Regions from separate parts of the Homo sapiens genome. Here region 2 is reported to be linked to region 1. Evidence: microRNA targets listed by miRTarBase, many of them from high-throughput screens and not tested one by one. Region 1 holds a microRNA gene; the other region holds the end of a gene's coding sequence.

The links. Region 1 holds the annotated microRNA hsa-miR-548at-3p (CAAAACCGCAGUAACUUUUGU, at 1,263-1,283, opposite strand). A microRNA usually pairs through its seed, bases 2 to 8, with sites in the 3' UTR of a target mRNA and lowers its output. Matches are read on the target gene's strand: a 7mer-m8 pairs with bases 2 to 8, a 7mer-A1 pairs with bases 2 to 7 and ends in A, and an 8mer does both.
Region 2: the mRNA of NCKAP1 is a reported target of hsa-miR-548at-3p. Seed matches in the 3' UTR shown: 7mer-A1 at 776-782 and 7mer-A1 at 3,595-3,601.

What each region holds. Positions count from the first base shown.
Region 1 is chr17:42,491,093-42,496,092 of GRCh38, reverse strand. MIR548AT (microRNA 548at) reads right to left here and starts at 1,320; the gene lies at 1,263-1,320. It overlaps ATP6V0A1 (ATPase H+ transporting V0 subunit a1), which reads right to left. Exons shown (of 22, transcript NM_001130021.3): 12 at 1,620-1,759; 13 at 905-1,059; 14 at 377-467.
Region 2 is chr2:182,921,343-182,926,433 of GRCh38, reverse strand. NCKAP1 (NCK associated protein 1) reads left to right here. Exons shown (of 31, transcript NM_013436.5): 31 at 616-5,091. The coding sequence ends at 732. Among named protein-coding and RNA genes, the nearest start is that of FRZB, 57 kb to the right of the region's middle.

The DNA.
Region 1 (5,000 bases):
TTCTTTCTTTCTTTTTTTTTTTTTTTTTTTTGAGACGGAGTCTTGCTCTGTCACACAGGCTGGAGTGCAGCTTGCTCACTGCAACCTCTGCCTCCCAGGTTCAAGCGATTCTCCTGCCTCAGTCTCCCGGGTAGCTGGGACTACAGGCATGCGCCACCACGCCCGGCTAATATTTTATTTTTAGTAGAGATAGGGTTTCACCATGCTGACCTCAGGTGATCCCACCTCCTCGGCCTCCCAAAGTGCTGGGATTACAGGCATGAGCGACCATGCCCAGTGAAAGCCCACATAACTATTTATCTTCATTTTAATTCTCTTGCTTCAGGGTTAGTGTTAAAAAATTTGAGGTTAGCATATAGGAAGGAAGTCCTCTTACTGGATCAATGCCAAAAGGGTATGGTCCACCAAACACTCCAGGGAGGGCTGGGTTCAGCTGTAGAACAGGGTTCCCCCGAAGCGTCTCTTCACTACCATGACAGGGAAAAAGTCACATTATTTTTGAACAAGAGAGGGAAACAACAAGGGTCCAGAAACTGACCCCAAAATAAATTACTGTAGCTATCTTGTCTCTTCAATAAAATGGGAGGGGAAAAATAAAGAGGAGAGACTAGCAGCTGAGACTGAGGGATCCAAAATGACAAAAAGAAAAATTAAACACACAAACACACAATCAAGTAGGGAACTGGGGAATCTGGTTTTAGTTTCCAAAAAAAAAAAAAATCATTTCTAATCTTAGTTCCTGGATACTTGCTGAACAAATCACAAAGCAACTCACAGTGTGGAGCATGAATGAGGAGACACTGTCACCACTTCCTAAAGAAGTGTCAGTTTACCACTTGTCTTAAAAATCAGGGCTGCACATGAAAGGAATAAGCTTTGAATTTTAGCTTCTTCTGCAACTTACGTCCAATTATAAGTAAACATCGGCCGTACACTCCAGGATGACCCAAAGATATTAAGAGACTTGGAAAAGCAATCATTGTAGATGAGGCCAGTGTACATGGAGAACACACCCATCAATAAAATAATGTATCGACCACTGAACACAGTGCTAAACATCTGGGAACCAGAAGAAAGAAGTAATGAGAATGTACTCACTGCAGCTCACATTGTGACAATGTTATTCAGAATATACCTGCCCCTTTCTCCAGCACTACTTTACCCCATCCTGATTCAGAGAGCTTGAAGTAAAAACCAAAATACAATGCTAATGAGACAGTCACTTTCACAGGATGTGGCCTCTATTTTTTTATTAGGTTGGCACAAAAGTTACTGCGGTTTTGGCCATTTCTTTTGGCAGCCAAAACCGCAATAACTTTTGCACCAAACCTAAATAATTTTTATTTTTTTAGAGATGGGGTCTCACTATGTTGCCTATGCTGGTCTCGAATTCCTGGGCTCAAGTGATTCTCCTGCCTCAGCCTCCAAGTAGCTGGGACTACAGGCACACACTACCACTTCCAGCTTGCACATGTCGTCTTTGGTGTTAAAATGAACATAACTTCTCTACTTCCTTTTGATAAATTCATGGATAAAAGACTTCCAGATCATAATTTTCATAATGAATGCTTGGGAAATTATAAAATTTCAGTTCAATGCAGATGTAACTTAAACATTACCTCATTCTCATTCTTCTGGGAAAGGATCCGGCTCTCCCTCAGTACCATCCACACAGCAAAAAGGGTCATTAAAATGCCATGACCGAAGTCTCCAAACATCACAGCAAATAGAAAAGGGAACGTGATAATAGTATACGGAGCTATGAAGAAACCAAAAAAAGAAAAATACAAAGTACATTAAACCATAGCAATTCCACAAATATTACATTCTTTTCCATACCCACCCCCCTTTTTTTTTTTGAGATGGAGTCTTGCTCTGTCAGCCAGCAATGTCTCAATCTTGGCTCACTGCAACCTCCATCTCCCAGGTTCAAGTGATTCTCCTGCCTCAGCCTCTTGAGTAGCTGGGATTACAGGTGCCCACCACCATGCCTAGCTAAGTTTTGTATTTTTAGTAGAGACAGGGTTTCACCATGTTGCCCAGGCTGGTCTCCGACTCTGACCTCAAGTGATCCACCTGCCTCGGCCTCCCAAAGTGCTGGCATTACAGGCGTGAGCCACCGTGCCCAGGCTTCCATAATCTTAAGATCAATATAAGGTGACTTACTCCCCAGCTGCCAGACAGATAGGACTCTCAGAGAAAATCTTTCATGGCAGAATCAACACATCTTCACAAAGTAGCTAATGAAATTTGAGCTACTGATAACTTTTTTTAAAAGAGAGATGGGGTCTTTCTCTGCCACCCAGGCTGGAGTGCAGTGGTTTCATCACAGCTCACTGCAGCCTGCAACCCCTGGACTCAAGTTATCCTCCCACCTCAGCCTCCCAAACAGTTGGAACTACAAGTATGTGCCACCATGCCCAGTTAATTTTGTTTTAAAATTACTGATAAATAATATTTTTTTAGATGGAATCTCACTATTTTGCCCAAGCTAGTCCTGAACTTGTGGCCTTGAGCAATCCTCCCACCTCAGCCTCCTGAATATCCGAGATTACAGGCATGAGGCACTGTGCCTGGCAGCTCTGATAACATTTCAAACAAAGAACAGTGGAAATGAAGGTGTAACCTTGACAACATTGGTTTGTTCTCTGACTCTCTTGTAACTCGTGGGACCCTGCTCCCAGGGCAGGCCAGCTGTCTTCTCTTTGTGCAGCAACCATGTCCCAGTGATATAAAGCTAAATATCAGATAACGTACAGATGGAGAGAGCCCAGAGCAAAGCAGTTCTTCCATAGGGCTCCAACTGAAAATGAATACTCACACTCTTGATTTAATAATTAACTCTCCAAATATAGGAGAAATCTGTGTTGTACCTAAAGTGGCCAATACTTGCTACATTTTTTCTGTCTAACCTTGGAACAGGGAAGCCAAAAAAAAAGCCATTTAAAAATATCAGACATCTTAGAAGAAACATTTTGCTTAAAACAGTTCCTGCAAATGATTTGCTAGAGAAGTCCAGGTGTTTTAGGGCTGTGAGGGCACATGAAAGAATCCAGTCTCATGAACTTTTTTTTTGAGACAGAGTCTTGCTCTGTCACTCAGGCTGGAGTGCAGTGGCACAATTTAGGCTCACTATAACTTCTGTCTCTTGGGTTCAAGCAATTCTCCTGTCTAGGCCTCCTGAGTAGCTGGGATTACAGGCATGCACCACCAGGCCTGGCTAATTTTCTTGTATTTTTAGTAGAGATAGGGTTTCACCATGTTGGCCAGGCTGGTCTCGAACTCCTGACCTTAAGTGATCCTTCCACCTTGTCCCCACAAAGTGCTGGGATTACAGGCATGAACCACCACGCCCAGCCGATGAACTTTTTTTTTTTTTTTTTTTTGAGACAGAGTTTCACTCTTTTTGCCCAGGCTGGAGTGCAATAATGCAATATCGGCTCACGGCAACCTCCGTCTCCCCGGTTCAAGTGATTCTCCTGCCTCAGCCTCCCGAGTCGCTGAGATTACAGGCAAGAGCCACCATGCCTGGCTGATTTTGTATTTTTAGTAGAGACGGGGTTTCTCCATGTTGGTCAGGCTGGTCTCGAACTCCTGACCTCAGGTGATCCACCTGCCTCGGCCTCCCAAAGTGCTGGGATTACAGGCGTGAGCCACCACACCTGGCCCAGCCGATGAACTCTTAAAGGAACGCTACCTGACAGTAAACCTGCCCCTTACATTAAATGGGCATCTTTTTGTTGTTGCCCAAGCTGGAGTGCAGTGGCATGATGTCGGTTCACTGCAACCTTTGCCTCCTGGGTTCAAGTGATTCTCAGGCCTCAGCCTCCCGAGTAGCTGGGACTACAGGTGCATGCCACCAAATCCGGCTAATTTTTGTATTTTTAGTAGAGGCAGGGTTTCACCATGTTGGCCAGGCTGGTCTCAAACTCCTGACCTCATGTGATCCACATGCCTCAGCCTCCCAAAGTGCTGGGATTACAGGCGTGAGCCACCATGCCCTGCCAGAATGAGCACCTCTTCACAGGGAGTACACAAGATCTGAGGTGTCAACATGTTTATTTATTTTTTAATAGAGATGGGGTCTCACTATGTTGCCCAGGCTGATCTTGAAATCCTGGGCTTAAGCAATCCTCCTACCTCGGCCTCTAAAAGTGCTAGGATTGGCTGGGCGCAGTGGCTCACGCCACCCAGCACTTTGTAATCCCAGCACTTTGGGAGGCCAAGGCGGGTGGATCATGAGGTCAGGAGATCGAGACCATCCTGGCTAACACAGTGAAACCCTGTCTCTACTAAAAATACAAAAAAATGGCCGGGCGCAGTGGCTCACGTCTGTAATCCCAGCACTTGGGGAGGCAGAGGCAGGCAGATCACCTGAAGTCAGGAGTTAGAGATCAGCCTGGGCAACATGGTGAAACCCCGTCTCGACTAAAAATACAAAATTAGCCGGGCGTGATGGCACATGCCTATAATCCCAGCTACTCGGGAGGCTGAGGCAGGAGAATCGCTTGAACCTGGGAGGCAGAGGATGTGGTGAGCTGAGATCGTGCCATTGCACTCCAGCCTGGGCAACGAGAGTAAATCTCTGTCTCACCTAAAAAAAATAAAAAAAAAATTAGCCGGGCATGGTGGCGGGTGCCTGTAGTCCCAGCTATTCGGGAGGCTGAGGCAGAAGAATGGCGTGAACCTGGGAGGCAGAGCTTGCGGTGAGCCAAGATCACGCCACTGCACTCCAGCATGGGTGACACAGCGAGACTCCGTCTCAAAAAAAATTAAAAATAAAATTAAATTAAAAAAACAGTGCTAGGATTAACATCTTTAATTTTAATTCAGTTATTCAACAGCATTTAAAGTGAGGCATTAGAAGAAACAATGAACAAAAAGGCCAGGCATAGTGGGTCACACCTGTAATCCCAGCACTTTGGGAGGCTGAAGCAGGAGGCTTCCTTGAGCCCAGGAGTCCAAGACTAGCTTGGGCAACATAACAAGACCCCGTCTCT
Region 2 (5,091 bases), not on the chromosome of region 1:
TTCCCTCTCTGCAGTATCTGTGAACCAGCTCTTGCTTGTTTCTACCACGTGGCTCTTTCCCCACTTAGAGTTATTTTCCTTACCTGCAGAAATTGGATTTATCCTAATGACTTAGCACATCCCACAGCTCAAATCTTTTTCCAGATAGTCTTTCTTGATTACTTTGGCCTACATTAATCTTTCTTCTGTTTTGAATTCTTACAGAATTTACAGCTTTCCATTTCATTATAGTCGGTCTTATGTTTGGTTTTGCTTCCTAGCTTAGTCTTTGATTGCCAGGTAGAGTTGATAGTACAAAAAAAAAATATTTTTGTATTGTCTTTTATTTCTAGTATATCAGTGAGGAAAATGAAAGTGCTCAATATATTCCTGTTGATTAAATAAATTTAATTGAAAAGTAGCTCTTTTTAAACAGTTTGATATACATTCACTGTGGCACATTTACATTTTAGATTAAGTAAAAGGAAAATAATATGTGTCTATTGCTAATAAGAACAATATAGAAGTTATGCCTTACTGGTTGTCAATAAATGTTCCCATTATAAATAACTTATGATTTTTGTTTATAAACAAGTTATAAATAACTTGTTTTGATGGATTTTTTGAATTTTACAGATTGTACAAGAATCTCCATTCCTTACAATGGATCTTTTGGAATCTTGTTTTCCTTATGTCTTGCTGAGAAATGCATACCATGCTGTCTACAAACAAAGTGTTACATCTTCTGCATAAAATTACCTACTTAATCAAGATAAGCACGCATTTTTGTTGCCTTGGTTTTACCTGTAGACTGTGGAACTATTTTACCTTAAGACCTGAAAAAGTTTTGTGGATTATAAATTTCTTTCATACGGTTGTATTTTCTGATCATTGGTTTCTTAATATGGTTGTACTACAGTATACTTGGTTGATTTAGGTTGCACATTCACTGAATTCACTGAGATTATTCCTATAATTTTAAAGTATCATTTATTTGAAAAACATACATTATCAACATGTTTTTGATATTTGATAATGAAAAAAATCTTTGCTTGTTTATTTCTGAAAAAGAACTGTATTTAGTGATTATTTTAGATAGTGATATTATAGTATTCATCTGTGTGTAAATTATTTCATATAGGGAAGAGTTCTGATCTGTACCTATGGTTCTTATTGAAAACAACATTGGATGTGCATTTCTGTGATGTTATGAATACATTTCTACTTTATTTTGAAACATTTGCCAAACTAAATACTGTAACACTGTATAACATTTAAAAATGTTAAAGAACTGCTTAGTATTAGAAGCAGATCATTTCCCAAAATTCTAAGAGCAGCAGCATATGTTGTTGCTTGTATAAAGCCTAGCGATAATTTTTAGACTAACTTCCATGGTGCCCTGTTGGCATTAGCACTACCATTGTACCCTGCTGTATAATAAACAATCTTAGACATTTATCAACTGTTGATACAAATGTTAGTCCCTAACCACTTTTTATATATGTTTTAAATTTTTGAAATTCAAGTGTACCTGCCATAACATAAAATAAACACTAGACTGTATCACACTTCGATTGATTTCTTTAAGATCCTTGGATATTCGTTCAATAATAATAAAGTTTTTGTTTAAACTTAGTTTGAAATATAAAAAATAATGGTTTAGGAATGTCTAAGTACAGCATTCGATACCAGGTCAGCTATTATATGATTTGTTTAAATGTTTTAAAAAACATTTTATTGAAAAAAATACCAAAATTAGAAAATAAAATTACACAATACTTCTTAAAAATTAAGAACTTAAAGAAAACTTGTATGCTGTCAACTTGCTCATTTTATCTGTAACCAAATAGAGTTATTTAAAAGAATAGGGAAAAAAAATTGAGTGATCATGGGACTAGTGAGAATGTTGAGAACTGCTGCATTAGTCAGTAATGAATGGGAAAGACATAAAAGGGCCTATTGCTTAATAGTTGGCATGGAGGGCAAAGCAGCTCATTTAGTTTGAAAACTAACCCAATGTTTTGCTCTTTGATTGGCATTGTTGAGGCTGTTTCTCAGCAGCTTTGTATATGAATATCATAAAGAGCTTCTGTTCACAGCTTCTTATGTATACACTGGTAACTTGTGTTAAGATAAAAGAAGGCTGCTGTGAACTCAGTTATAATGTTTTTCTTTCTTCAAACATAGAGAGTAGAATGAAATTGAAGTACTATGAGATTATGCTATTATTTTGTGTATGATTTGTCCAGCCTATATTTAAAGTAGGGAGTAGTTGTCACTATCTGTCGAAAAATTGTACTTGTTCCATAAAGATTTTTTAAAAAGGGAAATTTTAAAATGGCATAGTTCAGACCTGAAATAGTCTGATTTACACAGTGAGCAGTCAAAACTAAGATTTAATGCCGTTTGTTTTGAAATATTAGGATCTTAGAGAGGTAATAACTTTGTTGGCAGTGATCTCTGGAGAGGTAAAGTAGGAATTTGGATATGTACACTTTGGAATCATATGTGAAAGGGCATAAGGATGAAAATAAGGCATTCTCTACCACTGCTAGGCTGAGAAAAAAATCGCTCCTCATAGTCACCTGAAGTTTTTGTCCAAATTTTTTCTCATACAGCAAAGGCGGGGGAGGAGGCGTGGCAAAGGTAACTTGGAGGAAAAAGTTAAAAGTAAATTGACAACTACTATTTTTAATATCTTGTTTGTTTTATTTTCTTCTAAACTTACACAACAACATACTATTTTTGTTGTTTTCTCTACATTAATGTGATCATACCATACATACTGGCCTGTAATCTGCTTATTTCACTCAGTAGTAGAAAAAATGTCTTTAATATTCTTTTTAATACCTTTATAGATACCATAACTAATTTAACAATTTCATGGCCAGGCGTAGTGGCACACGCCTATTTCAGCACTTTGGGAGGCCAAGGCGGATGGATCACTTGAGGTCAGGAGTTCAACACCAGCCTGGCCAACATGGCAAAACCCTGACACTACTAAAAATACAAAAATTACCCAGGTATGATGGTGCACACCTATCATCCTGGCTACATGGGAGGCTGAGGTGGAAGAATTGTTTGAACCCGGAAGGAGGAGGTTGCTGTGAGCTGAGATCACACCACTGCACTCCAGCCTGGATGACAGAATGAGACTGTCTCAAAAAAAAAAAGAAAATACTCATTTGGATAGATTGGATAGATTTTTAGACAATTTCTTTTCATTATTATAAATGTATATCTATATCTTGGTAAAGTTGACCTGTTATTTTTTTAGAATAATTTTTCAGAAGTAAAATTGCTTCCTTTCTGCTGCTTTTTCATTCACTTATTTAAGCAAGTATTTTTAGATGCCTGCATGTAATGGTGAGCAAAAAGGTGACCCTTTTATAGTTGAGCTTGGATTTTAGTGATGGTATACAATAAACAAACCAGCTTCTTGAGACGGAGTTTCACTCTTGTTGCCCAGGAAATGGGCAATGGCCTGATCTCGGCTCACTGTAACCTCCGCCTCCCGGGTTCAAGCAATTCTCCCATCTCAGCCTCCTGAGTAGCTGAGATTACAGGCGCCCGCCACTACGCCCAGTTAATTTTTGGTATTTTTAGTAGAGATGGGGTTTTACCATGTTGGCCAGGCTGGTCTCGAACTCCTGACCTCAGGTGATCCACCCACCTCAGCCTCCCAAAGTGCTGGGATTACAGGCATGAGCCACCACGCCCAGCCATGAGCAAACTTCTGATGGTGACTGGAAAGTATACAGGATAATGTGGGGAGGCAGTGGTGAAACTACTTTAGAAGAAAGTGTTAGAAGAAAGTGTCATCTGTGTAAGAGAAAACATTTGAGCTGGTACGTGAAGGATTAGAAGGAACCACAAGTGGGCTGAGGGGAGGAATAATAAAGGCAAAGACCCAGAAGGCAAGCACAAACTTGGCATGTTTGAGAAGTTAGAAGTGTGTCATCTGTGTCTCTGTCATGAGGAGTGCTCAAGTTCCCTCTAGGAGCCTTATGGGCTATCTAGCTCTTTTTCTCTTCTGATCATGTGCTTGCTTGCTTTCTTCTTTGCTTATATAGCAGAGTTCACAAATTAAATCTAATGTAGGCTGGTTAATAAAGGAAATGAACATGAATTCACTGATAGGCTCTTGCATTAATGTGAAAATGTAAAGTCTGTTGTACACCATCAGGCCTTCTAAATGAAGCCCAAATTCTGTAAGGTAGTGAATTGTAACCTACTGATTAGTACATGATCCATGCCCATTCTGTTATAAGGACTTGCCTTTCTGAGACTTCACCTGTATTATTCCTAAGACTTTTGTGAATAATCCTTAAAGTAGTGACTCCTTACATCTTTCTTTCATTTCTTCTTTGTAGTCACTTGAAATGACAGCATGAACCATCATTTCATTTGAAGGCCTGAGCCTGAATTTTCAAATAGACAAAATGCTCTCTTTCTCCGAAGATTTGCCATGACCTCTGCCTTTGGGAAAAAATATTTGAGATTTTAAAATTTTTATTCTGTAGTACAAAAATTATGTTTTTCGTTAATTGGTCCTGTGGAATTGGAAGGAAATTTAATATTTATTGACTCTACTTTGGTATTATTTTCAGAGTGAGAAGTAACTTTAAGTGTATTAAAATTTCATTCATTTTTGCATGAACCAAACTTTCCCTACACATCGCTGTCCTTGACTGTCCAGAGTAAACATGTCTAACTCTGGAATGTTTCATTTCCAATAAAAGTATTCAGCCTGTCATTTTGGGCCTAAGTAAAATGGGATAAATTAGCAATCTGAAGTTAGGATCCTAGCCACAGAGGGCCATGTCTCATTTCTGGTTTAAGTGCACCCCTCATCCCCAGCCCTTACCTTCTTCTTTCTCTTAAGGATTGAGACAATCCTCTTGGTGCTCTTGGTGCAGGTGCATCTTGGTCACCTCTTACATGAGGGCCACAAACTTGGTAAATGGGTGGCCTGGAGATGGGGTTGTACTAGGTATGTGACCTTGGTGATTGCCTTGTCTCAGTTGTAGTATATGGCTGAGTCACATTCATAGTACACTACATACACATACTGACCAAATGCCAATGGCTAAGGCTTGAAATTATTTCACC